2 separate regions of the Homo sapiens genome follow, and region 2 is reported to be linked to region 1. The links are microRNA targets in miRTarBase. Many come from high-throughput screens and were not tested one by one. Region 1 holds a microRNA gene; the other region holds the end of a gene's coding sequence.

Region 1 (15,140 bases):
GGACCAGGCTCAGTGCAGTATCTCACTCCACTAGTACTGCCCACGGGGCACAGCTGTGACTTTTTTTATTTTCAGTGGGTGGGTATGGACTGAGGTGGCAGGGCTAGCATTTCGCACAGGGGCCTGGTTCCAGACACCGAGCTTCGACGCACTGCACTGACCTGCCGCGTGGGTGAAAGCACCCCGGCAAGACTGCGTGAGACAGGGTGGTGCCTTGGACAGAGGGGTCACTCTGAGGTCAGGCCCAGGAGCAAATCCCGGTTCTGGCTGCACATCTGCTCTCAGGCAATGTAGTTACCTTTCGAATCTCAGAGTCCTGAGCTACAGAAAGCCTGCTGGGTAGGGGGTTCTGAGGCTTCCTTGGGCGTGTAGCACGTGTTGTCTATAGAAGCGGCTCTGGTCATCATTGGTAGTGGGGGTGGCCGGCTCCTGGACCTTCTGGAATCTGCAACTCCCTCCACCTCATCCTTTTCCCTTAAAGTCCTACCTCCCTTCTGGGATCTCTTCCCAACCTTGGCCTTGCATCGAGCAGCCTCCCAGGTGTTTAGGGGAAGTAAACTGATCTGTCAGGCACTGAATGGGACAGAAGTGGCCCTTGGTTGTTCTGAAAGTTTCCTCGTGTCCAAGGCAGGCCTTTCTCTGCCTGTGGGCCAGGGAGGGCACTGACTCTATCTCCTCTTTTCAGACAGCGGTGGCCTACCCGAGCGCAGTGTGTCCTTGACAGGAGCCCCAGAATCTGTCCAGTAAGTCCCCACAGGGCCTCTCATTGTGATGTGGGGGGCAGGCAGAAGCCTGCTCTGTCCGTTTGAATTGAAAGTTGGGAGCAACTTGCACGCCATGTCCTCCATTCTTGCCCCCATCTCCAGACAGCCATGTTAACATGAGGCTGATTCCCCGGCAGCCCAAGACCTGGGGAACCTGGAGCCTGAACAGCCCCTGTGACTGGCCCCTCTTCCCTGTCATCCTTGCACACTCTGGGGTCGCCTTCCCTTTGAGCTGGGTGGGCCACCAGACCAGTACCTTTCTCCAGCGGTGGCACCCGCTCATCCCCCGCTCCTCCCCTTCCCAGGAAAGCCAAGATGATGCTGGATGACATTGTGTCTCGGGGTCGTGGGGGCCCCCCAGGACAGTTCCACGACAACGCCAACGGGGGCCAGAACGGCACCGTGCAGGAGATCATGATCCCCGCGGGCAAGGCCGGCCTGGTCATTGGCAAGGGCGGGGAGACCATTAAGCAGCTGCAGGTGAGGGCAGCACCTGGGCAGCTTCCTCTGCATCCGTGTGCCACACCCCACCGCCACCACCACAGCAGCCCAGGAAGTCCTGGGAGAGCCCAGCACTAACGGTTAACCTTGCTTGTAAAGGAACGCGCTGGAGTGAAGATGATCTTAATTCAGGACGGATCTCAGAATACGAATGTGGACAAACCTCTCCGCATCATTGGGGATCCTTACAAAGTGCAGGTGAGCACGCCCTGGGGTGGTGGAGGGGGTTCTGGAGAGGCACGGGCAGGTGGGCAGGGCCAGCGGTCTCGGGGTCTGCATTCCGCCAGAGAGATATGTGAACAGTCGGTCATAACACCAAGAGGCTTGCAAGAGCGCTGGCTCGTAGGATGGCCCTGAACTGACTCCCAGCTTTGTGTGTGTGAGGCACCGGCCTCACCTCTGACCTTCTGCTTTTTTATCTGGAAACGGGGCTGCTGGTAGTGCCTCCCCATTAAAGTGGCAGGTAGAGAGCTCAGTAGGGTGCTGTGCTGGGCTCACCCAGGGTTCGTGGGTCCTTAGTTGAGGCCCGCACCCCCGAGGAGGTGGGGGGGTGTGGGGCAGCAGGGCTCACCCATGGGGGCTGCTTCCTGTGTGTTTGCAGCAAGCCTGTGAGATGGTGATGGACATCCTCCGGGAACGTGACCAAGGCGGCTTTGGGGACCGGAATGAGTACGGATCTCGGATTGGCGGAGGCATCGATGTGAGTGTGGGCCCTGCCTTCACCCCCCTCTCCCCCGCCAGTGGAGGGAGGGGCCGGGGTGAGTGGCTCCTTGTGGCCAGTGGGCAGCAGAGGGCAGCAGAGCTGCGGGCCGAGCTGACGCTGCTGCCTCCCTCCCCAGGTGCCAGTGCCCAGGCATTCTGTTGGCGTGGTCATTGGCCGGAGTGGAGAGATGATCAAGAAGATCCAGAATGATGCTGGCGTGCGGATACAGTTCAAGCAAGGTCAGGGCCTGGCCCACCCTGCCCCTGGCCAGTGCACCCCCACCCTCTTTGGGAGGCAGGCTCTGAGGGAGCTGGGCACCGTGGTCAGCCAGGTGGCCTCCATAGCACCTCACGGCTCTTAGTCCAGCCGTCAGAACATGGCCAGTCCCTTCTCTTCTCTGGGACAGACACATGAGGGCTTTCCACATCCAGGGGGAACGTGTGTTCCTATCCCTATCAGATCTCCTCTTCCTCCCCCTACGATGGAGCCTATCCTGACAGGACAGCCCTGGGTGCCCCGCAGGCTGGATCAGGGCACTCCACCTCAGCTCTGGGCTCTTGCCAGTCCTCAGGCAGTCTCTGAGCTGCCTGCCGTGGGGAGAAGGGCCCCTCTGGCTTTTCAGAGATTTATTGTTCTGTAAAATCTCTCAGTGCTGGGGGTGCTGTGTGCTGGAAGAAGCTTGAGCCACCTCCTGGCTTGGCCGTGGGTTTCCTTCTCTGGGAATGTGGGCCGCCTCCCCCTCAATCCCTGAGCGAGTGGAGGCTGGGAGCGGCGCAGCGCGTCTGAGATCTCAGGCCGGCGTGGTGTCTGCGCTGGAGGCGGCGTTGCAGGGCTCTGGGGTGGGCTCTTCTTTTAAACTTGTGTCTCTGCTCTCTCGGTGCTGGCCTCAGATGACGGGACAGGGCCCGAGAAGATTGCTCATATAATGGGGCCCCCAGACAGGTGCGAGCACGCAGCCCGGATCATCAACGACCTCCTCCAGAGCCTCAGGGTAGGTGGCCCCGGGTGCTGAAGGGGCTGGCAGGGCCTCCAGGGGAGTGCAAGACCAGACCGGCTTCCAGGGTTCATCATCCTCCTCCTCCTCTTGTCTTGCAGAGTGGTCCCCCAGGTCCTCCAGGGGGTCCAGGCATGCCCCCGGGGGGCCGAGGCCGAGGAAGAGGCCAAGGCAATTGGGGTCCCCCTGGCGGGGAGATGACCTTCTCCATCCCCACTCACAAGTGTGGGCTGGTCATCGGCCGAGGTGAGTGTGGCCCCCTGCACCCTATCCCTTGCCCCCTCTTCCCTGGGCCATCACTGCAGGCCACCTTCACCTTCTGCGTTTCTGCAGGTGGCGAGAATGTGAAAGCCATAAACCAGCAGACGGGAGCCTTCGTAGAGATCTCCCGGCAGCTGCCACCCAACGGGGACCCCAACTTCAAGTTGTTCATCATCCGGGGTTCACCCCAGCAGATTGACCACGCCAAGCAGCTTATCGAGGAAAAGATCGAGGTGGGTTGGGGCGGGCTCTGGGGATTTGGTCTCACAGCCCGGATCCCAGCCCACTTACCTTGGTTACTCTCCTTCCTTCTAGGGTCCTCTCTGCCCAGTTGGACCAGGCCCAGGTGGCCCAGGCCCTGCTGGCCCAATGGGGCCCTTCAATCCTGGGCCCTTCAACCAGGGGCCACCCGGGGCTCCCCCACAGTGAGTATCCTCTGCCTCCTGGGTTTTGAGGCCGGGGGCTTACTGAGCTGGCAAGAAGAATAGCAGACCCCATTTCCCTTTCCCTAGAAGTGCAGGCGGGGGGCCTCATCCAGCCCATTTTTGTGGATACCATCAACAGGCCCTCTCCTGTCTACTGGTAGAGCATGTGCCTTTCAGCATCCCTCTGTGCACGTGCAAGTTTCGCGGCTTCTTTCATGTCCTCAAGCTGACGCTGCGCGTCCTTCGAGTTGCTTCTTGTCTAGGCCTTTCCCAGGCGCCCCGTTGAGCCTGGTGGTCTGGGTCTCTGGCGCCTCCCCACTGAAAAACATCCCCACCCCAGGTGGTCCGGCTGCGGCCACCCCCGCACCACTGCTCAAGCATCCCTTTCTTCTCTCCTGCAGTGCCGGGGGGCCCCCTCCTCACCAGTACCCACCCCAGGGCTGGGGCAATACCTACCCCCAGTGGCAGCCGCCTGCTCCTCATGACCCAAGTAAGTGATGGGCCACCTGGCGGAGGGCAGGCCCTGTTCTGTCCCCCCGTCTCACCCGAGGTATCTCCTGCAGGCAAAGCAGCTGCAGCGGCCGCGGACCCCAACGCCGCGTGGGCCGCCTACTACTCACACTACTACCAGCAGCCCCCGGGCCCCGTCCCCGGCCCCGCACCGGCCCCTGCGGCCCCACCGGCTCAGGGTGAGCCCCCTCAGCCCCCACCCACCGGCCAGTCGGACTACACTAAGGCCTGGGAAGAGTATTACAAAAAGATCGGTGAGTCTGCAGGGTGGCGGGGGGGCTCCAGCCCTGCCGGGGGAGTGGTTTCTGACCTGTCTCGGCGCCCGCACAGGCCAGCAGCCCCAGCAGCCCGGAGCACCCCCACAGCAGGACTACACGAAGGCTTGGGAGGAGTACTACAAGAAGCAAGGTGAGTGGCCACCATGCGGGGACAGGGGCAGGGGCAGCCCTCACCCACAGCCTCTCACCTGCCTTTGTCCACCCACAGCGCAAGTGGCCACCGGAGGGGGTCCAGGAGCTCCCCCAGGCTCCCAGCCAGACTACAGTGCCGCCTGGGCGGAATATTACAGACAGCAGGCCGCTTACTACGGACAGACCCCAGGTCCTGGCGGCCCCCAGCCGCCGCCCACGCAGCAGGGACAGCAGCAGGCAAGTGGGAATTGCCACCCTCCTCCTCCTCCTTTCTCCTTCCAACCCCCGGCCACCGTCCATCCTGCCTTAGTGGGTAGCGCCGGAAACCCCTTCCCCTGCGGGGTGTGCCCTTGATGCCTGCAGCGGGGGCCGTGTGGCCGGAGGTCTCCGGGAGTCCCCACGCACCGCCAGGGAAGCATTCGCTGGGTCCAGAGGTTAAACGAAGAGGCCTCCCTGCGCCGGCTGCTTGTTCCTGTGTGCCGCTGTCGTGATGCTGGGGAGCGCTGAGACTCGCAGGCGGGACTTCTGAACTGCTGGGGAGTCGGGGGGCAGGCAGACAGCGCGGACGGTGGGCACCGGCCCGGCCGCCACCACCTCGCTCACAATCTGGCCACTTGGGAAGAAAACGTCTATTTTTTCCCCTTCTCTGCATCACTTTTTTGGTTTTTGTTCTTTTTATTCTTTTATTTTTTAAACCCATGATCTTTTTTCCTGTGTCCAAGTGACTGTGTTGCAGGCGGCCTGGCTCTGGCAGGGACTGGTGGGGACGCGGGGAGCGGCCCAGGCCCCTGCCCCGCCGGGCTCAGCCTCCCATGCGCTCGCGCTTGCCTGTGTCCCGGGCTTGTCTGTGAAGTGGGCGTGAAGATCGTTGCCACCTTCCAACCTACCTCACAGGGGTGTTGTGGGGACACCATGATCTCTGGATTGTTCATGTCGTCGTGCTGCGCCGGGAGCCACCGCCCTCCGGAGACAGGGCAGCTCCCCTACGACCCTAGCGCCTCCGCCCTCCGCGGCCCCTCTCCTCTCTTCCTGCTCTGTCCCTCCTTCTCCATCAGGGAGCAGCGTGACTTCAGCGAGTCCCGCGAGCACCTGGCTAGACAGTTAACAAGCACGTCCTTCCAGCCTGAGCCAGCGCAGGTTTGGGAGGGGGCTTCCTGGCCCCCCCCACGGTGTTCCAGCCCCTCCTCTCTTCCGCCCCCTAGTCTCCCACCCTTCCCTCCCCGTAGTGACCAATTCCTATCTCTTCCCTCTCCGCAGGCTCAATGAATCGAATGAATGTGAACTTCTTCATCTGTGAAAAATCTTTTTTTTTTCCATTTTGTTCTGTTTGGGGGCTTCTGTTTTGTTTGGCGAGAGAGCGATGGCTGCCGTGGGGAGTACTGGGGAGCCCTCGCGGCAAGCAGGGTGGGGGGGACTTGGGGGCATGCCGGGCCCTCACTCTCTCGCCTGTTCTGTGTCTCACATGCTTTTTCTTTCAAAATTGGGATCCTTCCATGTTGAGCCAGCCAGAGAAGATAGCGAGATCTAAATCTCTGCCAAAAAAAAAAAAAAACTTAAAAATTAAAAACACAAAGAGCAAAGCAGAACTTATAAAATTATATATATATATATTAAAAAGTCTCTATTCTTCACCCCCCAGCCTTCCTGAACCTGCCTCTCTGAGGATAAAGCAATTCATTTTCTCCCACCCTCGGCCCTCTTGTTTTTAAAATAAACTTTTAAAAAGGAAAAAAAAAAGTCACTCTTGCTATTTCTTTTTTTTAGTTAGAGGTGGAACATTCCTTGGACCAGGTGTTGTATTGCAGGACCCCTTCCCCCAGCAGCCAAGCCCCCTCTTCTCTCCCTCCCGCCCTGGCTCAGCTCCCGCGGCCCCGCCCGTCCCCCCTCCCAGGACTGGTCTGTTGTCTTTTCATCTGTTCAAGAGGAGATTGAAACTGAAAACAAAATGAGAACAACAAAAAAAATTGTATGGCAGTTTTTACTTTTTATCGCTCGTTTTTAACTTCACAAATAAATGATAACAAAACCTCCCCGTCTGCGGGTGCTGTCTGTCTCCCCCCCTTTCCTTCCCTCCCTGTAGTTTTGAAGCGGATGTTTGTTCTTTATAGATGTTGTTTAAAAAGCCTGATAATGGTGATTGAAATTTACAAACTTTGTGTTTTTTTTTTTTTAAGAAAAATATAAAATAGTTTTCTTCAGGCTCAATGTGCTTTCCTAACCGTGCCCCCCCCCCTTTTTTTTTTTTGTTAAATAAAGTGCTTTTTGTTTAAAAAAGACTGCGTGCTGGCCGCAGTTGTGTTTGTGAGAGGAAACAAGTTGAGCAAGTCTCAGCCAATTAGAGTGGGGTGTGGCCCCCCAAGACTTTCCCCTTCCCATGTGGGAAGGGGAGGCTGGCTGAGCCCAGCACTGCTGTCTTCCCCTACCCAGTTTCCCTCCAGCACCTTGGGGAGCAAGGCGCTCAGGAGGGCCTCAGGGACCGGCGTTCCCATGGATGGGCTGTTGCTACAGGAGGTCCTCTGGCCTGTTAACGTTCAGAGCCCTGAGGTGGGAGCCAGGCCCGCGTCAGTGCTCGCTGGGTGATGGGACCGGATGTGAGGTGGGAGAGGGCACCGAGGGGCCACCCAAGCTGTTTGGACCTGGGCAGGTGTCTTGCAGCCCCGCATGCAGCTGCAGGGTCTCTGAGGTTGTGGCTGAATGCCAGCGTTTAAAACTCGCTTCATCTTAGATGTCCTGGGCTCATGGGCCTGGTGATAGCCCCGGCAGGAGCCAGTAACAGCTGTGGCCTCTAGGGGGGGCTGTTGACAGTCCCCTGACCCATGCAGGTGTGCCAGGCACCTGGCCCAGTGGGGCATGTTCCTTGGTGGCCCCTGGCCAACCTCCCTGGTGGGGAAACAGACCCCGGGAAAGGGAACCTGTTGCTCTGGAATCACAGGGGGCATCGGTCCCCCTTTCTGGAGGTCTCACCTCCTAGGTACGCACCCTTCCCACGTACTGCACGGGTTCCGGTGAGGGGCAAGGCCCACCCCCAGCCCCTCTGTCTCACTGCAGACTCTCAATGACAGAGCAGCACTTGGCAAAGATGTTCTCTGGTGCTGCTTCTGCCGGGATCTAGAGAAAGGGGAGCCGCAGGGGTCAGGTCTGGGCCCCACGGCAGGGACACCACCCTCTCCCGCTCAGACCCTGGGAAAATCCCAGAGGCATGCACGTGAAGGGAGAGGGGACAGGGTCAGGAAAGCTTGTGTTGCTGACTGCTGTGTGAGGGCGTGCAGGGAGGCCCCACCAGTGTCCCATTGCCTTCCCACGTGAGCCAAGGCTGGGTTCTCAAGGCATTTCCTGGGGGAATGGGAATCCCCCAGGTTACCTGGTAGGAAAGCGAGGACCAGGCCCGGGTGACCCTGGACTGTTAAAGCCAGACTTGTTCCCTAGGGGTTGGGGTGCAGTGAGCCAGAAGCGGGGAGCACCTACGTTTCAGAGCAGGTTATTGCGCTGGTAGGTCAAGACCGGCTCACACAAGGTATAGTGCGTGTCCAAGCGCTGGTGGATGGCCAGCTCCGAGTCGTCTGCCCGGTGCTCCACCTGGCCCCAGTGTAGCACTCGTCGGAGCATCGTCTCCATGGAGCAGTCAAACACGATGACGACGCTGGGGGCCTGGCCCACCTAGGAACCCGAACAAGGGGGCTGGGTGTGGAGGGACCAGGCACAGTGGCTCCAGAACCCCGGCTTCCCCAGAAACCAGGTATCTAGGATTACGTGGGCAGGTAAGAAATAATCAGGCCACCCTGGTCTGTTTTATTTATTTATTTATTTATTTATTTATTTATTTATTTGGGCACGTAAGGAATAATCAGGCCACCCTGGTCTGTTTTATTTATTTATTTATTTATTTATTTATTTATTTATTTATTTATTGAGATGGAGTCCCACTCTGTCGCACAGGCTGGAGTGCAATAGCACGATCTCAGCTCACGGCAACCACCTCCTCCCAGGTTCAAGCAATTCTCCTGGCTCAGCCTCCCAAGTAGCTGGCATTACAGGTGCACACCACCACACCCAGCTGATTTTTGTACTTTTAGTAGAGACGGGATTTTGCCATGTTGGTCAGGCTAGTCTCGAACTCCTAACCTCAGGTGATCCTCCCGTCTTGGCCTCCCACAGTGCTGGGATTATAGGCGTGAGCCACCATGCCCAACCTTGTTTTATTTTTCTAGCTCAAGTTTTACGTATTTACTTTTTGGAGAGGACAGGACATTCACTGCCAAACACACACACACACACAGTGAAGCATCTCGCCATCTCCAACCACCCAGGGTCACTCTCCCTGGAGGCAGCCTAGTTACCTGCTCCTGTGTCTCCTTCGAAAGCTATGAGGCATGCACACTGCAAGCAAATATGGTTCTAATACTTTTTTCCTCCTCTTTTTTTTTTTTTTTTCCTTGAAACAGAGTCTTGCTCTGTCAACCAGGCTGGAGTGCGGTGGCGCGATCTCGGCTCGCCGCAACCTCCGTCTCCCAGGTTCAAGCAATTCTCCTGCCTCAGCTTCCCAAGTAGCTGGGATTACAGGCAGCCACCACCACGCCCAGCTAATTTTTGTATTTTTAGTAGGAACGGGGTTTCGCCATGTTGGCCAGGGTAGTCTCGAACTCCTGAGCTCAGGTGATCTGCCCACCTCAGCCTCCCAAAGTGCTGGGATTACAGGCATGAGCCACCGCGCCCAGCCTAAAAAGTAAAATATTCTTAAGTGACTCAAAAGGATACTTGCACAGAAGGATCAGATATATATTCTTGGATAGAAAGACTCAACATTATAAAGGAGCTGAGTCTTCCCAAACTAGTTTATAATTGTCATGTGATCCAAATGTGATGCAATGGCCAAGCATGATGGCTCACGCCTGTAATCCCAGCACTTTGGGAGGCTGAGGTGGGTGGATCACTTGAGGTGAGGAGTTCCAGCCCAACCTGGCCAACACAGTGAAACCCCATCTCTACTAAAAATACGAAAATTATCCGGGCGTGGTGGTGCACGCCTATAGTCCCAGCAACTCGGGAGGCTGAAGCAGGAGAATCGCTTGAACCCGGGAGGCAGAGGTTGCAGTGAGCAGAGATCACACCACTGCACTCCAGCCTGGGCAACACAGCAAGACTCTGCCTCAAAAAAAAAGAAAAGAAAAGAAGAAAGGAAAAAGCCAACAACCTGTCAGAAAAAAAAAAAAAATATATATATATATATATATAGAGAGAGAGAGAGAGAGAAAGAGTTTACTGAAGAAGACAACAAAACACCTTTCAAACTTTTTGTATTTTTAGAGACAGGGTCTCACTCTGTTGCCTGGGCTGGAGTGTAGTGGCAAGATCATAGCTCACTGCAGCCCTGAACTCCTGGGCTCAAGCGATCTCCCACCTCAGCCTCCTGAATAGCTAGGACTACAGGTATGTGTCCCTGTGCCCAGCTTGGCCCTTAAACTTTGCAAAAGATATTAAAACTCAATTGTAGCCAGAGAAATGCTCATTACAACCACACTGAAATACCACTTCTCACCTACACAGGTTGACAAAAATCCAAAACCTTGGCAGCATGTTCTGTAGGTCTCACTGTAAATGTAAAATGAAGAGGAATCTGGTGATGGCTAGCAAAATTATGCATTTCTCTTTAATCCAGCAATTCCACTCCTAATCTATTTCAAGGATACTAGCAAAAAGGTGAAATGACATGCAAAGGTTATTATTTAATGTGGCATTGTCTGTAGTGGCAAAGGATTGAAAGTAATTTATTGCCCATAGGAGATTAGCTGAATATACAATGGCGTGGCCACACAATGGAATACTACACAGCTGTAAAAAAAGAAACAAGGAATATCTCTTGACACTGATGTGAGATATTCTGGATGGATATATGGCAAAGTTAAAAAAAACAAAAAAACAGGCTGGCATGGTGGCTCAGGCCTGTCATCCCAGCACTTAGGGAGGCCGAGGCGGGCAGATCGTTTGAGGTCACGAGTTTGAGACCAGCCTGGCCAACATGGTGAAACCCCGTCTCTATTAAAAATATAAAAATTATCCTGGCATGGTGGTGCACGCCTGCAGACCCAGCTACTCAGGAGACTGAAGCAGGAGAATCGCTTGACCCAGGAAGCAGAGATTTCAGTGAGCCAAGATGACACCACTGCACTCCAGTCTGGACAACAGAGAAAAGAAGTTGATGTAATGAAATACTGCAAACGCACACAGAAGAGGATAGCGTGAGGAATCCCCAGACAGCCAGGTCTAACCATTGTTGTATCTGTGCCCAAACCTCTTGTGAATGCTGGTTATGGGTTTTTGGGTTTTTTTCAGACAAGGTCTACTTTTGTCACCCAGGCTAGATAGAGTGCAGTGGCGTGACCATAGCTCACTGGGGCCTTGAACTACCCAACTCAAGTGATCCTCCCGCCTCAGCCTTCTGAGTGGGGGGGAAAAAAAAGGATACAAGGTCATTTGAAATAATTATTTTCTGACTGGGCACGGTGGCTCACGCCTGTAATCCCAGCACTTTGGGAGGCCAAGATGGGCAGATCACTTGAGGTCAGGAGTTCGAGACCAGCCTAACCAACATGGTGAAACCCCATCTCTACTAAAAATACAAAATTAGCTGGGTGTGGTGGTGCGTGCCTTTAATCCCAGCTACTTGGGAGGCTGAGGCAGGAGAATCGCTTGAACCCAGGAAGCGGAGGTTGCAGTGAGCCCAGATTGTGCCATTGCACTCCAGCCTGAGTGACAGAGCAAGACTCCATATAAAAAGATATATATATATATTTTCTGTGTAATTAAGGAATGCAATAGATACATAGTTGGGTCATTTGTTTCAGTTAGGTTTCATTATGTAGGGTTGCCTGGCCAACCCTGTATTTTTATTATGGTGCATCTATAGTGGGATAGAGTTGGTCCTCCATATGCGTGAGTTCTGCATCTGTGAATTCAACTAACCTCAGACTGAAAATATTTGGATGCCGGGCGCAGTAGCTCACGCTTGTAATCTCAGCACTTTGGGAGGACAAGGTGGGCAGATCACTTGAGGCCAGGAGTTCGAGACCAGCCTGGCCAACATGGTGAAACCCCATCTCTACTAAAAATACAAAAAATTAGCCGGGTGTGGTAGTAATCTCAGCTACTCGGGATGCTGAGGCAGGAGAATCGCTTGAACCCAGGAGGCGGAGGTTGCAGTGAGCCGAGATCGCGCCATTGCGCTCCAGCCTGGGCAACAAAAGGGAAATTCTGTCTCAAAAAAGAAAAAAGAAAAGAAAATATTTGGAAAACAAGTTGCCTCTGTATTGAACATGTATAGACTTTTTTTTTTTTTTTTTAAGACAGGGTCTGGTTTTTTTCCCCATACCTCACAATGTCCAAAATAAAATTCTTTTTTTTATTTGTTTGAGACAGGGTCTTGCTGAAGTACAGTGGCGCAATCATAGCTCACTGTAGCCTCAAACTCCTGGGCTCAAGCGATCTCACCTCACTCTCCTGAGTAGCTGGGACCACAGGCGTGGGCCACCTTGCCCAGCCCAGAATTTTTTCCTTGTCATTATTCCCTAAGCAATACACTATAACAACTATTTACATAACATTTACATTGTTTTAGGTATTACAAGTAATCTAGAGATGACTTACAGTATATGAGAGGGTGATCATAGGTTCTATGCAAATACTATGCTATTTTATTATTTAACTCTTTGAATATGTAATTTATTTAGAGATGGGGTCTCACTATGTTGCCCAGGCCGGCCTCAAACTCCTGAGCTCCCACTTCGGCCTCCCAAAGTGCTGGGATTACAGGTGTGATTACCGTACCTGGCCACTACTGTGTTATTGTATATCAGAAATGTGAGCAGCCAGGTGTGGTGCCTCACGCCTGTAATCCCAGCACTTTGGGAGGCCGAGGTGGGTGGATCGCCTGAGGTCAGGAGTTCAAGACCAGCCTGGCCAACATGGAGAAACCCTGTCTCTACTAAAAATACAAAATTAGCCGGGCATGGTGCCACATGCTTATAATCCCAGCTACTCAGGAGGCTGAGGCAGGAGAATTGCTTGAACCCGGGATGCGGAGGTTGTAGTGAGAAGAGATCACGCCACTACACTCCAGCCTGGCGACAGAGCGAGACCCTGTCTCAAAAACAAACAAACAAAAAAACTTCAGCATCCATGGATTTTGGTATCTGAGACAGATCCTGGAACCAATCCCCCATGGATACAGAGGACCTACATATTAAAGGAAAACGAGGCCAAGCACGGTGGCTCACGCCTGTAATCCCAGCACTTTGGGAGGCCAAGGCGGGTGGATCACCTGAGGTCAGGAGTTTGAGACCAGCCTGGCCAACATGACGAAATCCCATTTCTATTAAAAATACAAAAATTATCCAGAGATCGCTTGAACCTGGGAGGCAGAGGTTGCAGTGAGCCGAGATCATGCCACTGCACTCCAGCCTGGACAAAGGACAAGACTCTGTCTCAAAAAAGAAAACTAAAATAAATAAATAATAATAATAAAGGAAAATGAGAGCTATAAAGAAATCTTAAACTTCCTTTTCTAATTTTATTCTTTTATTTATTGTTTTGACCCAATAATTGTACATGTGTATAGGGTACATAGTGATGTTTCAACACATATAGTTTTATTCTTAGTAGTTAATGTTGGCATATTGTTTTCAAACTATTTGGTATCTAATGGTATGATGCAAATGAGTATGTTAGTGGTATTAAGAACCAAAATTTTTAGGGAAAGAGAAAAGGGAAGGAACAACACTGTAAGTGTCACGTGAACGTGAAATATCAGAATGAACTTGTGATTTCTTTTTCTCTTTCAAGAGTATGTGTTTCTTAGCTCTGTTCACTGGGAAGATCCAGAAACGATGACAACCCAATAGCAACGAGTATTCTTTGAACCCTAATTTTGCACCACGAAAAGGGCTTCTGGAAAAGACCCATTCCAGGACTGAGCAAGAAATGTAAAAAGTGGGAGTTTAGGCCGGGCGTGGTGGCTCACACCTGTAATCCAAGCACTTTAAGAGGCCAAGGTGGGTGGATCACCTGAGGTCAGGAGTTCGAGACCAGCCTGGCCAACATGGTGAAACCCCATCTGTACTAAAAATATAAAATTTAGCCAGGCATGATGGTGGGCGCCTGTAATCTCAGCTACTCAGGAGGCTGAGGCAGGAGAATTGCTTGAACCTGGGAGGCAGAAGTTGCGGTGAGCTGAGATGGTGCCATTGCACTCCAGCCTGGGTGACAAAAAAAAATAAAAAATAAAAATAAAGCGGGAGTTTAAAGTCTTGTACCAGAAAACAAGAAGCATTCGACCACGGCCAGGCACGGTGGCTCACGCCTGTAATCCCAGCACTTTGGGAGGCCAAGGCGGGTGGATCACCTGAGGTCAGTTTGAGACCATCCTGGCCAACATGGCGAAACCCCCTCTCTACTAAAATACAAAAGTTAGCCAGGCATGGTGGCACATGCCTGTAGTCCCAGCTACTCGGGAGACTGAGGCAGGAGAATCGCTTGAACTCGGTAGGCGGAGGTTGCAGTGAGCTGAGATCGCACCACTGCACTCCAACCTGGGTGACAGGGTGCGACTCCATTTAAAAAAAAAAAAGAAAAGGCCGGGCGCGGTGGCTCACGCCTGTAATCCCAGCACTTTGGGAGGCCGAGGCGGGCAGATCACGAGGTCAGGAGATCGAGACAATCCTGGCTAACACGGTGAAACCCCGTCTGTACTAAAAATACAAAAAAATTAGCCAGGTGTGGTGGCGGGTGTCTGTAGTCCCAGCTGCTGGGGAGGCTGAGGCAGCAGAATGGCGTGAACCCAGGAGGCGGAGCTTGCAGTGAGCCAAGATCACACCACTGCACTCCAGCCTGGGTGACAGAGCGAGACTCTGTCTCAAAAAAAAAAAAAAAAGACATCCTCATTGTGGGGGAGCTGGGCGGAGGGCATATGAGACCTCTCTACTATCTCAGCATTTCCTTGTGAGTCTATAATTAATAAAAAGGTTTTAAAAAATACATACTTTATGGCTGGGCACGGTGGCTCACACTTGTAATCCCAGCACTTTGGGAGGCCGAGACGGGCGGATCACCTGAGGTCAGGAGTTCGAGAACAGCCTGCCCAACATGGTGAAGCCCCATCTCTACAAAAAATACAAAAATTAGCCAGGCATGGTCGCAGGTGCATTAATCCCAGCTACTTGGGAGGCAGAGGCAGAAGAATTGTTTGAACCCGGGAGGTGGAGGTTGCAGTGAGCCGAGATCAAGCCATTGCACTCAGACCTGGGGGCAAGAGCGAGACTTCTCTCAGAAAAAAAAAAAAAAAAAACCACTTATTTTATTTATTTATTTATTTTGAAACAGGGTTTCACTCCTGTCGCTCTGGCTGGAGTGCTGTGGTGCATTCTCAGCTCACTGAACGCTCCTGGTTCTCAAGCAGTTCTCCCACCTCAGCCTCCCTAGTAGCTGGGACCACAGGTGCTTGCCACTGCACCTAGCTAATTTTTTTGTATTTTTTTTTTTTTTTTTGTACAGATGGGGTTTTGTCGTGTTGCCCAGGCTGGT
Region 2 (15,140 bases), not on the chromosome of region 1:
CTCATTTTGATTCAGATTCTCTCTCATTCTGAGAAACGCTAGAAAAGGCGAAGTATTTTCTTTCCTTCACTGATAAAACCCAGGAATTATTTCCAGTCTTCAGTGAAGCTACTATACTTTAGGACTTGGTCTTTTTTACCATAAAAAGATTTCCCAATTGCCATTTGATTTGTTTTGATAAAAGTATCCCAAGAAAGAGAAGACTTGGCTATATGTCTGTTAAATTGGATGAATATTTACAAGTTTGTTGCTTAGCATTGGTCTTGGACTAATTAATGAATTCTAGACTAGCCAAAAACCCAAGTTGCTTGTATGAAAACAAATTGCTGAAAAATTAGCCATCAGGAATGATTGTCTGCTTTAAATCACACTTCCAATTTGCTTAGCCAAATGAGGCTTGCATGGTATTGTAGGATTTGGCTCATGCCCCAAATTTTTAGGTACATAAACTTTATGAAAGCAATTTAAAGTGCATCTCCTTAGTGTCTCTGCAGGGTTCCTTACGGGAACTGAGTGAAGCTCAGGATCAGGTGCAAAACACCCATTGGATCTTAGACTGTTTCAAGTAATTTGAGGAAAAGTAGTTGTCTTGAGTCACCAGGTCACAGCAAAGTTATTTAAAAACTCACTGGTGTACATAAAAAGAAACAGTCCCACAGCGATGTTATGTCTGTGTTCATGCTCTTCATTGGCATTCTGGGTTGAGCATTCTTCTTTGTTCCAGAAAGTGCCCTGGAGCCTTTAGTGACATTTGGAGATGGACTCGGCCAGCCCCCTGCAGGGAGAGTCTGACAGTCCCGATCCACTCTCACTCTTCCGAGAGGGAGGTGTGTGAAGCTGTGCTCGCTCTCACTGCGCTCTTATTTTCCTTTTGCCAACAGAGCGTGCAGCATGAGAACACCTACCGGGACCCCATAGCAAAGTATTGCTATGGAGAAAGCCCGCCCGAGCTCTTCCCCGCTTGACGGGTGCAGCGGACTTGCTCCAGCCTGGGTGAGGAGGCCCCGCTGAAGAACTCGCCTCCTGGGACCCAGCTTCAGCCATCGGGCCAGGCTGCAGGAAGAAGACAAAGGCAGCGTGAGGAAACCTTGGCTTTGACCCCTTCTCGTGTTGTCATCTTTGGCTTCGCTCACCACCCGGGCTTACCAGATGGAACTCTTCTGTAAAGCAGCTTGGCCCCTCCAGCCAGTCCCATTCGGGAAAGATGAAACCGGAGGCCGGGCTCACGGTGGTGGTGGAGTTCTTGGATGACTCAGCCCTGGGACCTGCACAGGGACCTGTGACTTGTGTTCATCGGGGGCCGGTGTCACTTCCAGTTTTGATCCAGGCTCTTTCACTGTAAAATTATTTATTGGATTCCTTTGGAGTAATGGGAACATTCTAATGTTTTATGTAGGAAAATGCCTTGCCATTCTAGTTGAATATGTTCAAGGAAATTATTTTTGTTGTTGTTCTGTGTTCTCGAGTTTCAGGAGTTAAATCATTCTTCCACCCAGATACAACATTTTCTCTTTTAGGACGTGAATATTCTCTCTAGGCAGTTATTTTTGTTTGTATTTCGACAGTATCAAGCATAGGCCCTGAACGTGACCTGTTAGCCATATCCTGACGTGTAAAATTATCTAAAAACTCAGACACTCTTCCATTCTAATCTAACTGCACGATTTCTAACAGTGGGCACCATGTGCCTGCCCTCAGGTTATTTTCCAGTGGTAGTCGAATGTGCTCATATACCCTATGGAGAGCACTGTTTTAGCAGAAATCTAATTTCTCTTCCTGGAGGAATTTGTTCTCATTTCTTTTGCCACTTAAAATTAACTGTGGGCTACTCAGCCAGGGTACAGTGGGAGCCTCAGGAAGGTCAGAGGCAACCTCCTCCCCTGTTCTATCAATAGAAACCCAACGTTGAGGCAATTCCTAAACAGACGCACCTCGTAGCTTGCTGTATGTGTTTATTCTTTATTGCTTTCAGCTTTGGGGCTGTAACAGGTACAAATATTTGGTTTCCCTATGATTTATAGAGAAGAAGAAGAAACCCAGCTTTCTATCAGAGCACTGCAAGAGAAGAGTCTTACACCTGCCCTCAGTGGGAGATGAGAATGGTCATTATGACTTAGAGAATGCTACACGTGTAGGTTGCTGGTGTGTCCTGAATCCACAGGCATAAAGCACTCCCCATTTTTCCTACTGTAATGCAGATTCTCCGGCTCAAGGTCTAGAATATTTGATCCTAAGATCAAGACATCATGCCCTTCGAATAGTACTGCTCTTTGTTTTCAGGAGTCACGTGAACACACAACTCTCCTATATTCCTCACGAACCTCAGGATTGAGCAAGGTCTTTGTAATTTTTTTGGTTCACTTTATTGACCTGGGAGCAAGGTGCTAATTCTGTGGTCAGTATTCAATGTTTTTTTCAGTGGAGCTTTTTCTTTGGGCCATATTTGCCTTCTAATACATTCCTGCAATATGTAGTGGTGATTTCCCTTAGCTTCCTCCTACTACCTCTTATACTCATCTCCCCAAATTATTTGCCTCCCTTAAATAAGTTTTCCTAGAAGGTAAGCTGGTCAGGCAATTTGAAAAATATTAGATCCCAAGAAATCTATTCCGTTTGCATTGGACTTCTCGGATTCCATGTGTTTGCAGCAGGACTACATCGAACTCTGATGTGCCGGATTGTGGCATGTCTGCATGTCTCATCCATCTATTGTTTTTGGTAACTCAGTTTGGAATTTCAGTGTCTGTCTTCCCTGGGTTGACATTGGAATCAGCCTCTCCTTTGAGCTTATTTTAACTCTTGAGCAACATAACATAGATTTAATGTGAACAGTTTATACCAAAGGGCAGCCTGTGCCTGTTTATGGATCCTCTCTGCCTTTGTACTTGAAGAGCGCATTTTACATTTCCAGTCCTTTCACAGACAGGAGCTCCAACCTTACGATGGAGAATTAAACTTGCTTGTATTTCCACTTTGTGGATGAGGAACTATGAGAGGTGGAGTGACTTCCTGGGTCCCCGCTGAGACTTAGTGACAGATCCCAGACAAGAACTTCATCTCTGACTCCAGGTCTAGTCCTCTTCCCCCTGTCTCTTGCCAACTCCAGCCCTGACACCGTGGGCGTCTCCCCTGAGAGCAGATATATTTCAATTGTCCAGGCCAAAAGAGGGGCGAGGCGGCATAAACACCCAAATTAGGTGGAGGATCCAAAAGTCATTTTCATTTGGCTGTGGAATATGTTTTTTGTATTTCAATCAGCTAGGGGTGTGTTCACTGTTTTTGGAAATTCACAGCGCTTGAGCCTCCATAATGAAGCTGGGCTGCAGAGCACCTGGCACGTGCTCCAGGCTCCCAGCTCCCAACCTAGGACCTCTCCCTGCCCTCCACTCTGGTTGGTTTGTGGTTCCCTCGACCGAGGGTTTCTAGAATCAGGGACCTTGTCTAAGTTTTGTTTGCCCAGAGCCCAGCGAAGTGTGTGATACACCTTGGGAGTTTAGGAGATCACAAAAGGGATGAAAACACCTTTAGAAAACATTTCATTGGTGGGGCGTGGTGGCTTATGCCTGTAATCCCAGCACTTTGGAAGGCTGAGGCAGGTGGATCACCTGAAGGCAGGAGTTCAGACCAGCCTGACCAATATGGTGAAACCCCATCTATACTAAAAATACAAAAATTAGCCGGGTGTGGGGGCGTGTGCCTGTTTTTGTGAGACTCTGTCTCAAAAAAAAGAAAAAAATATTGTTAATAAGTGAGTGTTTTCGGCTCAAGGGAATTGAGTCATACGTTGCATCTCCCCCAGTTCTGCATCTTATTTGCTGCGCTTGCTGGAGTTGTAAAGATTGGTCCTAACAGGGAAAGAAGCACACAAGAGACTGTGAAAAGGGCTCTGAGACAAGCAAGGACAAAAGAGGGAGGGAAATACCTTCCACAGGGCCTGGGATCTGGCAATGCTAGAGCCTTTTTTTTTTTTTTTTTTTTTTGCGATGGAGTCTTGCTCTGTTGCTCAGGCTGGAGTGCAATGGCGTGATCTCAGCTCACTGCAACCTCCCCCTCCTGGGTTCAAGCAATTCTCCTGCCTCAGCCTCCTGAGTAGCTGGGATCACAGGCGTACACCACCACACCCAGCTAAGTTTTTGTACTTTTAGTAGAGACGGGGTTTCACCATGTTGGCCAGGCTGGTCACGGACTCCTGACCTCAGATGATCTGCCCGCCTGAGCCTCCGAAAGTGCTGGGATTACAGGCGTGAGCCACTGCGCCCGGCATGGAGCTGCTATTGATGGGTGAGCTCCACAGCTTTTGCAGAAGCAGAGGATATGACTTGAGAGCAGTGCTGTCACCTCTCAGCATGTCCCCAAGCCCAACTGGGGCCTCCTGGAGATGCCTCAGTCGGCACTGGCCCCAAGGGAATCGTGGGGAACAGTTGCACAATTTGCAAGTTTCTGAGTGCAGCTTTTCCCATCCTTGGGATCAGCAGATAAGTTGTAAACACAGGGAGGTACTGCTTATTGGATATACTTTTCATAAGTAGGACAGAATTCTTTTGGGACTCTAGAGTTGGGAACTACCACTTACTAGCGGCGTGGCTGAGGCAGTCTTCCTCCTCTGTGGCTCAGGCCCTTCATCTGTGAAATGGGGTCACAGCATCTGCCTCTCAGGGTCACTGTGAGGTGTCGATGTGAGCAAGGCCTGAGGCTTGGCAAGAAGTCAATGTCTGCAACTCAGCAGGGAGCAATGGCAGGGGCAGTCAGGGGTCGGCTCGGATAGGGGTGGGTGGGCTCCTGAGGTTGGAAGGGTAGGAATTACAGAGCTCTTGTTACTATTGTTGTTACTGTTTTTAAAGATACGATATTTCAGATAATTCAGGAGCACGTAAGGATGAAACTTAGGATAACCTAAAATCACACAACCTAGAGAGAAGCGCATTTTTGTCTTCCCCCATTTTCTAGGCAAAAATGAAAGTACTTTGTCCTCTTGAAAAACAATTCTCTAATGAATATCCTATGTTACATAGAGGCCTGTGTAATGCATTTGTGTGGCCACATGGTGTCAATTTCATGAATATACAATAATATTATTAATTCCCTGCTGAGGACATTAACTGGTTTCCAAGGCTGCTTGTTGTTTTTGCTACTACAAATAATGCATTGATGATAAATACTTTTACATACATGGTTGTATGTTTATCTGAACTATTTTCACCAATATATTCACCTAGTGTGTATGGAAGTGTCCATTTTTGTCATACCCCTGGTAACCCTGTGATATTATTTTTAAACATTTTGCTAATGGATCTCTGTTCTTGTTTGAATGTATTTAATTTCCAGCAGAATGAGCCCCATTCCTTATTTTGATTGGCCATTTATCATGTACATATGGTGAAATGCCTATTCGTGACTTAGCCAATGTTGTTTCTTTTTCTTACTGATTACTACAGTACATTTTTATATGAAAGCAGCCTTTGTCCCCTTCTCTTGTTTTTCAGCCCTGTGTTAGAAACAACTAAGCTCACATATTCACAAACCAACTTTTCCAGTTCATCTAGGGCAGTGGTGCTCAACAGGGGCAATTTTGCCCCCCAGGGAACATTTGGCAATGTCTGGAGACATTTTTGTCACAGGTGGGGAGGAGGGCAGTACTGTGGGCACTCGTGGAGGGAGGCCAGGGATGGTGCCCAACAGCCCCCACGACACAGAATTACCTGGCTGGAAGTGGGAGCCGGGTGGAGGGAGGGAAGCCCTGCTCTGGGGTCATATCTCCCCGTTAGATTGAACAGAGGAGCTCCTGGTAGCTGAGTGCTGACTTCATTATTTTTCCCCGCCCTTGCTTTCTACCCTGCTGAAGTGCTGCTGATTAAATTACCCTGAAATCCCCACAGGACACATTACTTCCTCACAGGTCTCTACTAGCCCAGCGCTGCCTCAAGGAATGGCATTATTCCTTTGCCACTGTGTCCTCACCGCACTCTTGGACTCCGCCGAATGCAGACACCCTCCTGTCTGCAGAAGGATCTGGAGGGGTAGAACGCTTCCCCTCTACGACGGATTGACTCCCCAGCACCTCACCAGCAGTTCTTTGAATGGAGTGGCTTTGGAGGTGGGAGTTGAGGAAGAAATGTGAGCCTGTCATTACAGGTTCTGTTTAGAAAACTAGTCATTCTACTAAAAAGGTATCACATAAGTAAGTAGGAGCAATAAAAACAAAGAAGATAGTGGGACTCCGAGAAGCTTTCCCCGCCTCTGGCCTGTTAGTCTATCGTTCGTTGGGCAAGGCTCTTCCAGTGTGTGACCTTTTGCGTGTTATCACAGCATGAGTGCAGTTTTGTGTACAGGCATCCCTATATTCAGCATGTATCTGCAACATGCCTTACCTCGTCTGCTGTCACAGAGCAAAGTGGAGCAAGTGGTCGCCGTTGGTCTGCACCTGAGCTGGGAGCCGAGTGGTGACGTGCATATGGGCCGACTGCGTCTCCACAGAACCTACTCAGTGATCTTCCTGTGTACGACTCAGTCCCTGATGTTGGAGTTGAACTGTAGGACTGTCTGTAAAATGAAAGTGCAGACTTTAATGTAGTAAAGAGAATGACTTGCCAGTTACAACCAATGAGCAAAGCAGTTAATTATTCAAATATTTTACCAAGAGTCCAGGTTTATTTTTTCTCAGGACTACACATTCTGTGAGACCAGAGGGACCAAGACATATCACTACCAGAAATGTGTTTTCATCAGCACTGCCAGAGGTTTTCATAGGGTAGTTTACTCTTGGAATTTTTAAATTCATACTTTTTTTTATGCAACGTGGGGTAGGTAAGCTTCTGATCACTGTGCACCCAGATTATCCCAAAATCGAAAGTGGTGTTGGCAGCCGGGTGTGGTGGCTCACACCTGTAATCCCAGCACTTTGGGAGGCCAAGGTGAGAGGATTGCTTGAGCCCAGAATTCGAGACCAGCCTGAGCAACATAGGGAGACCCTGTCTCTACAAAAAATAAAAAAAAGGAGCCAGGCATGGTAGTGCACACCTGTAGTCCCAGCTACTCAGGAGGCTGAGGCGGGAGGATGGCTTGAGTCCAGGAGGTCAAGGCTGCAGTGAGCCGTCATTGCGCCAGTGTGCTCCAACCTGGGCCACAGAGTGAGACCCTGTCTGAGGAGGGGAAAAAAGTGTTGTCTAAATGAGAAATCACCATTATCAGTAATTTAAGATTCCAGGCTATGTTGGTCACATCTCACTATTCTTTTTTTTTTGAAACGGATTCTCGTTCCATCGCCCAGGCTGGAGTGCAGTGGCACGATCTGGGCTCGCTGCAAGCTCTGCCTCCTGGGTTCACGCCATTCTCCTGCCTCAGCCTCCCGAGTAGCTGGGACTACAGGCGCCCGCCACCGTGCCCAGCTAATTTTTGTATTTTTAGTAGAGACGGGGTTTCACCGTGTTAGTAGCCAGGATGGTCTCGATCTCCTGACCTCGTGATCCGCCCACCTCGGCCTCCCAAAGTGCTGGGATTACAGGAGTGAGCCACCGCGCCTGGCCACATCTCACTATTCTTAAGGAAGAGAGAGAGCGAGAGAGAGTGTTGTCCTGTCCTGTGGGGATTGGGGCATTGTATTAAGTTGTACTGGGGGATGTCAAGATAGAAATGTTGAGTAAGTTACTACCTGAATAAATATTTGACCAGTTGATGCTAATTTGAATAGTAAATGTGATGACATTATATATTCTCAGGGATGTTTCCATACATTGGCTCTGTGTGTGCGTGTGTGTGTGTGTGTGTGTGTAACAAAAGCAGTATGAAGTATGTGAGCAATATCCTAATTTTATTGACAAGAGCACTGACCTTAATGACCTTGAGTAAATTACCCTCTCCGGCTTTGGTTTCCTCATTTGTCAATTAAGGGTGATGGCTAGCGTATCTTGCAGATCCAAATTCCAATTTTTGTAACAAGCCAAAAGTCCCCCTGGCTGTTAAAGCAAGACCAGAGCCCTCGTATCCCAGCGGCTGGGTCCCAGGCTTTTGATTTTCACAGGACAAATGTAGCCCAGCCATCTGGAGCCCGTTTTTCTCCAAACCAGGGCTTCCTCCTTCTCTCTTGCAGATTTCAACTGGGGCTCACCATTTTCTGCCTCTTCCTCCTCCAGTTTTAAAGAGACACCATATCCTTCTCTGCTGGGACCAACTTCCCATGTACTGCTGCCCTGCACCTGTGAAAACAGCTGCTGTGTTTTCTGTCATAAAAATAGCTGCCTTTTGGCAGAGAAGCACACAACGGTACTACGTTTCTGAGCCTTAATGCAGTGCTCAATTATTTAGGTGTGCTTCACCTGAGATACACAGAGCATCTTGGAACTCCTACTAAGCAGGGCTTCTACAGGCATTGCTCAGCTCAGTAAAAGGTTTTCCTTTCTCTGCTTTTGTGATTACCAGGCAGAAACCTTAAAATGTATGAACTTACAAAGAAATTAAATTGTGCCAAATTAGATTCCCAGCCCCTAGAGATAACCACTAATTAAAGTTCCGCTGGAGCGTTTTGCCTGTATTTTGTATATAAACGTGGATTTTGTATTTGTATGTAAATAAAGGTAGGACCCTGCTGTCCATATTATTTTAAAATAATTAGCTCCTGTTAGATTGATTTAATCCAATGATAGCGAATTCATTTGCAGAGCAGGCAAGCGCACTTTCCACTTCTATCATCCTGCCTGGAAGATTGAAGCCCAGTTAGAGGTTAAAACCCTTTCATAATTGCACAGGAGTTTAGCTTTGCCTGCTTTTTCCTTGTCTGATTTTATGCAGTGGGGAAGGAAGTCTTTTTGTTCTGCACAAATAAATTATAGGCATTTGTCGCGGCCGGAGTTGACCTGCATTAGGGATGCTGAAGAAACCTGTCACGGCAGGGTGTCTCTCGGCGTGACTCGACTTTCCTGAGAGAGCAGAGATCGGGAAAACTGCACTCCAGATCTCCTGAGCCTGTCATTTATTTTAGTGAATTGCTAAATGCAGAAATGTAAAATATAAAAAGGCTAGGGGAGGATCTGTGGACCGTCTTACTGGCTACCTGGTGTTGTAAGATTATTTGAGCTCAAGGCAGTCCACATTTCCCCCAGCACCAGCCAGCTCCGCCCTGTCAAGCTGCTGGTCTACATGGTGGTTTTCGAGGGTATAAAGGACTTCAGTTTCTAAAGATGTTCCTAAATGCTCCGTGGCATCTGCAGCAGGATGTCGGGAGCTGGAATCCACTGTGCTCTCTTCCCTAGGCACGTGCTGGACTCAGTTTCTCCCGGGAGGTTTGCATCTGGGCAGCACTTCAGGGCGTGCTCCTCGAGCTCCGTCCGTGGCATCCATACCTGCCTGGGCTGTGCCTGCAGCCTGCTAAATGCCAACCTGGAAGCCCAAGACAGATAGGCTTGGAGCAGCTTAGCAGCCGGCTGGGCTAATTTATTTGACACAAATCAGCTCATTGACCTGATTTAGCACGGGGAGGAACTACAGAGCCGAGTCACATGTGATCGTAAAGCCCTTTCTTCTCACTGCAGCCCTTTCAGACCTCGAAGGATGGCAGTGTAGTCAAATGACACTTGCGGTGCGATTTCAAGGGAAGGAGGAGAAGATGGAGAGATGGAAAGTGGAGAGCAAGGCAGCGCGGGTGGCACAGACACCGACAATTGCTTTCTGTGCCACTTGGTGGCACCAATGCCATAGGTTTTCTGTCCTCAATGTGATCGTTGTCTAGAGATTATGGGCCCCGTGCCTGCGTGGAGCTCTCTCTCCTGAAAACAATGAAGCTGTTTCTATAGATGAGAACCATCTGGTGGGGATGACAGATCAGGACTCTTTCCTGGGTCCGGGCGATTTTGTGAACAGGGACTCAGGAAAGTAGCCCTTGCAGAAGAGGGAACTGGGCATGCTGCTGGTGCAGAGAAGACCCAAGGCTTAAATAAATACTCACAGCTACCCCCTTCTTCCTCCTGCACCCTCCGCCAACACGAAAAGTGGGATAGGCCTCTTAACCATTCATACTCAGACAAAGAAAAACATTTATGAAGCACTTGCCATGTGCCACTCTGCACGTGCAGCGTCCCATCCCCATCTTCAGAGACCAGCATTCTTCTTTTGTGTGTGTGTGTGAGAGAGAGAGAGAGAGAGAGAGAGAGCAAGACAGGGTCTCACTCTGTTACCCAGGCTGGAGTGCAGTGGCGCGATCTTGGTTCACTGTAGCCTCAACCTCCCAGGCTCAAGTGATCCTCCCACCTCAGCCTCCTGAGTAGCTGGGACTGCAGGCACACATCATTACACCCAGTTATTTTTTAAAAATGTTTAGTAGAGATGGGGATCTCGATATATTGCTCAGGCTGGTCTTGAACTCCTGGGCTCAAGTGATCTGCCTGCCTCAGCCTCCCAAAACGGTGGGATTATTATAGGCGTGAGCCACTGCACCCAGCCAGGCATTCCTTTTCTTTTTTCTCTTGGAATGGAGTCCTGTCACCCAGGCTGGAGTGCGGTGGCGCGATCTCTGCTCACTGCAACCTCTGCCTCCCGGGTTCAAGCGATTCTCCTGTTTCAGCCTCCCAAGTAGCTGGGACTACAGGTGCATGCCACTATGCCTGGCTAATTTTTGTATTTTTAGTAGAGATGGGGTTTCATCATGTTGGCCGGCTGGTCTTGAAGTCCTGACCTCAGGTGATCTGCCCACCTTGGCCTCCCAAAGTGCTGGGATTACAGGGCATGAATCACCGCGCCCAGCCAGGTGTTCTTTTTTGTCATTTTATAGAGGAAGTCTCAGACGCTCAGGTTAATTTTAGCACAAGTTTACACCATGACATGGAGGAGCCACCTGCAACTCCAATCTGCGTGCAAGCAGGGCCGGGGCAGCGCGTTGCCTTGGCACGTTTTGATCACCCTTTGTTGTTTCCTGTGGGCAGGGGCTGTGCCTCAGTCTCTTATTTCTGGGCCCATTGGCCTGTCTATGAAAGGATGTCAACAGGATAATGCATGGGGTCCTTCCAGCCCTGGTATTCTAGAATTGTAGTTGGTGGCTTCTAGGACCTGGAAGGTGTTGCTTGAAACCAGTGCTGTTTAATCAGTGGGAGATTTTACACCACCCACTTCAAGCAATGTTTGAAGACATTTTGTTGTTGTTTTTGTTTCTTTGTTTGTTTGTTTTGAGACAAAGTTTTGCTTTGTGGCCCAGGCTGGAGTGCAGTGGCACAATCACTGCTCACTGCAGCCTCGAACTCCTGGGCTCAAGTGATCCTCCCATCTTAGTCACCTGAGTAGCTGGGACTACAGGCATGAGCCACCATGCCTGACTAATTTTTAATTTTTTTTTTTTTAGAGATGGGATCTTGCTGTGTTGCCCAGGCTGGTCTCCAATCCCTGATCTCAGGTGATCCTCCCACCTCAGCCTCCCAAGTAGCCGGGACTACAGGCCCATGCCACCACACCTGGCAAAAACCCATGCTGTTTAACCAGAGGGAGATTTTGCCCCCAGGGGATATTTGGCAATGTTCGAAGACATTTTTGATTGTCAAAAAATTTATGTGCAGGGGTGCTACTGGCATCTGGTGGGTAGAGGCCAAGGATGTTGTTCAACATCCCACAACACCCAGGACAACCAGCCCACAACAAAGAACTCACTGGCCTGAGTGTCAGAAGTGCTAAGGCTGAGAAACCCTGGGTTAAACTTTGTGACCCCTTGCATGGCAAGGATACGGAATTTTGAGCCCTGAGTATTCACGCAGCAGGTATTTAAAGGGTGCTTACTCTTCGCCCAGCTCTGTGTAGGTACTTGGGGAGTATACAGAACTGGAAGATGCTTCATCCCTTCCGGGGCTTAAAACTGAGTTGCTCCAAGCCTCTGGTTCTGGACACATTGTGCCTGAGCACCCTTAGATGTTGATGCTACCATCCCTCTTAGGATAAAATACCACTTTGGATTTCCAAAGAAAATATTTTATCCTCAACAGAGTAGCCACTATTTATTTATTTATTCCTACCTCATGCATAGAGCTACACTGAGTGTAGCTGGTTTATTTTCAAAAAGAAGTTGAGGAAATGCCACACATTAGACTCAAGGAAGAAAGTTAGAATCAGATGTGCAACTGTAAGCCAGCAACACAGTTGATGCAAGTAAGCTTCCTGGCAGCAAGGGCAAAAAGGGAAATAATCCTTCATGATAATATAAAGCATTGAAGGGACTGTATTACTGTCTCCTCAAAGGGTACAAAGTCTTGAATAAAATTTTAATGTAGGCTTCACACAGAAGATACTGCTTAGTATTTGGTAATGCGTACTATGTTCACCAGGCATATCAAAGGCAGGCATTTCTGGGTTTTGGATGGAATGATAAATTAGGAATGATATCTGTCTTCAGATGTCTGTTGGAGAAGATAAGCAATTATGCCACTACCTGTTAAACAGGGTTATAAATGTGAGGATAAAAGGAGTGTTACTATGTGAGTGAGGCAGGCAGAGAAGACTTACAGAATAAAACAATATGTTTTTATTTTTATCTTTTAATTTTTTTTTTTTTTGAGACAGGGTCTTGCTCTGTCACTCAGGCTGGAGTACACTGGTGTGATCACGGTTCACTGCAGCCTCAACCTCCCAGGCTCAAGTGATCCTCCCACCTCAGCCTCCGGAGTATCTGGGACTACAAGTGCACACCACCATGCCCGGCTAATTTTTTGTATTTTTGTAGAGACGGGGTTTTGCCATGTTGCTCAAAGTGGTCTTGAACTCCTAGACTCTAGCAATCTGCCCACCTTGGCCTCCCAAAGTGTTGGGGTTATAGACACATTTTAAAATACATATATATATTTTTCTAATTGCAAATTAATACACTGCATTACAGAAAATTAGAGCAATACAAATATGAAGGAGAAAATAAAAGCTCCATAACCTTTCTACCTGTAGACAACCACTGTTATCCTTTGATGTGTATCTATTTTCATGCACACATGCGCTTATATATTAATATATTTAATAGAAACAAAAATTGGAATCTCATTATATTTTACCATGTTGTAACCAAATATCCCTTAAAGGGCTTTGAAGGATGAGTTGGAGAGAAAGTGAGTTGCACGCCACTGCGGAGTTGGGCAGCCAGAGTCAATTTCCACCACGCATGCATGGATCATGGAGAGGGGTGAAATCCCACATTTCATTCTGCATCTCCAAGGGCCATCATTCACAGGGAGCTATGGAACCCAGCAGCCCTGGGGCCCCATTCTCTCTCTCTCCCTTTCTTCACCTAACAATGTAATGGGAATGGTTTTCCATGTTAAATAGTCTAGCATTTGATTTTTTGGTAACAGCTTTATTGAGATATAATTTACTTACAATTCACCCATTTGAAGTATACAAGTCAATGACTTTATTCACAGAGTTGTGCATCCATTACCACTATCAATTTTATTGATTGATTGATTGATTGATTGATTGAGATGGAGTTCCGCTCTTGTCAGCCAGGCTGGAGTGCAGTGGCACAATCTCAGCTCACTGCAACCTCCACCTCCCGGGTTTGGGTGATTCTCCTGCCTCAACCTCCCGAGTTGCTGGGACTACAGGCACATGCCACCATGCCCGGCTAATTTTTGTATTTTTAGTGGAGACAGGGTCTTTTTAGTAGAGTCTTTTGTGTCTGGCTTCCTTCACTTAAAATGATGTTTTCAAGGTTCAATCATGTTGTAGCATGGACCAGTACTCCATCCCTTTGTATGACCGAATAGTATTCCATTGTGTGGCTATACCACATTTTGTTAAAATACTCATCTGTTGATGGACATCTGGATTGTTTCCGCTTTTGGCTCTCATGAATAATGATTTTTTTCTGTTCTTTTCTTTATTTCTTTTTTTTTTTTTTTTTGAGACAGTCTCGCTCTATTGCCCAGGCTGGAGTGCAGTGGTGCGATCTTGGCTCACTGCCACCTCTGCCTCCCGGGTTCAAGTTATCTCCTGCCTCAGCCTCCCAAATAGTGGGATTACAGGCATGTGCCACCATGCCTGGCTAATTTTTGTATTTTTTTTTTTTTTAGTAAAGACAGGGTTTCGCCATGTTGGCCAGGCTGGTCTTGAACTCCTGACCTCAAGTGATCTGCCCGCCTTGGCCTCCCAAAGTGCTAGAATTACAAGCGTGAGCCACTACACCTGGCCAATAATGCTGCTTTAAAATTCATGTCCAAGTTTTTCGTGGACATGAATTATGTTTTTAGTTTTCTTGGGATATGAAAGAGTGGAATTGCTGGGTCAAATTTGATCAGTGTTTCCCCTTTTGAGGAACTACTAGACTGTTTGCCAAAGCAGCTATACCATTTTGCATTTCCACCCACAATGTACAAGGATTCCAATTTCTCATCACATCCTTGCCAACACTTGTCATTGTCTGCTTTTTAAAATTATAGCCATCCTAGTGGATGTAAAGTGGGGTCTATCGCAGGATGGTTTTGACTTGCACATCTCTGATGGCTGATGATGTTGAACATCTTTTCATGTGCTTATTGGCCATTTGTGTATCTTCTCTGGAGAGAGATGTATCTAAATCCTTTGCCCATTTTAAAATTAGCTTTTATGTCTTTTCATTTTTGAGTTGTTAGAATTCTTTATATATTCTAGATCAGATTTGCAAATATTTCCTCCCTTTCTGTGGTTGGTTTTTTTCACTTTTTTGATGGCGTTCTTGGAAGCATAGAAGTTTAATTTTGATGAAGTTCAATTTGTCTAATTTTTTTTTCTTTTTTTCTTTTTTTGAGACAGAGTCTCACTGGGTCACCCAGGCTGGAGTGCAGTGGTGTGGTCTCAGCTCACTGCAACCTCTGCCTCTGAGGTTCAAGAGATTCTCCTGCCTCAGCCTCCAGAGTAGCTGGGATTACAGGTGCATGCCACCATGCCCGGCTAATTTTTGTGTTTTTAGTAAAGATGGGGTTTTGCCATGTTGGCCAGGCTGGTTTTGAATCAGCCTCAAGTGATCTGCCTGCCTCAGCCTCTCAAAGCCCTGGGATTACAGGCATGAGCCACCGTGCTCAGACCACCACTTGGTTTTCTAATGACTGAAGATATTCCTTGGAATGGATGTGCCATAAGGGGATCATTGTTTGACCCTAATTTGCATCAAGTTCTTTGTTTTAACTCCCACCCCCATGTCTTTATTCTGG

Evidence for each region. Region 1 holds the annotated microRNA hsa-miR-3940-3p (CAGCCCGGAUCCCAGCCCACUU, at 3,491-3,512, shown strand). A microRNA usually pairs through its seed, bases 2 to 8, with sites in the 3' UTR of a target mRNA and lowers its output. Matches are read on the target gene's strand: a 7mer-m8 pairs with bases 2 to 8, a 7mer-A1 pairs with bases 2 to 7 and ends in A, and an 8mer does both.
Region 2: the mRNA of SPRING1 is a reported target of hsa-miR-3940-3p. Seed matches in the 3' UTR shown: 7mer-m8 at 1,137-1,143 and 7mer-m8 at 1,218-1,224.

The regions. Positions count from the first base shown.
Region 1 is chr19:6,404,806-6,419,945 of GRCh38, reverse strand. MIR3940 (microRNA 3940) reads left to right here and starts at 3,435; the gene lies at 3,435-3,536. KHSRP (KH-type splicing regulatory protein) reads left to right here. Exons shown (of 19, transcript NM_001366299.1): 7 at 686-743; 8 at 1,070-1,244; 9 at 1,365-1,463; 10 at 1,867-1,965; 11 at 2,105-2,207; 12 at 2,859-2,959; 13 at 3,064-3,208; 14 at 3,296-3,456; 15 at 3,539-3,648; 16 at 4,050-4,138; 17 at 4,212-4,412; 18 at 4,489-4,566; 19 at 4,645-6,844. The coding sequence ends at 4,922. It also overlaps the pseudogene LOC390877. RefSeq lists enhancers at 6,600-7,424, 7,425-8,249.
Region 2 is chr12:116,703,635-116,718,774 of GRCh38, reverse strand. SPRING1 (SREBF pathway regulator in golgi 1) reads left to right here. Exons shown (of 5, transcript NM_024738.4): 5 at 882-8,604. The coding sequence ends at 965. Among named protein-coding and RNA genes, the nearest start is that of SPRING1, 27 kb to the left of the region's middle. RefSeq lists enhancers at 524-1,053, 1,054-1,583, 9,424-9,603, 10,904-10,953.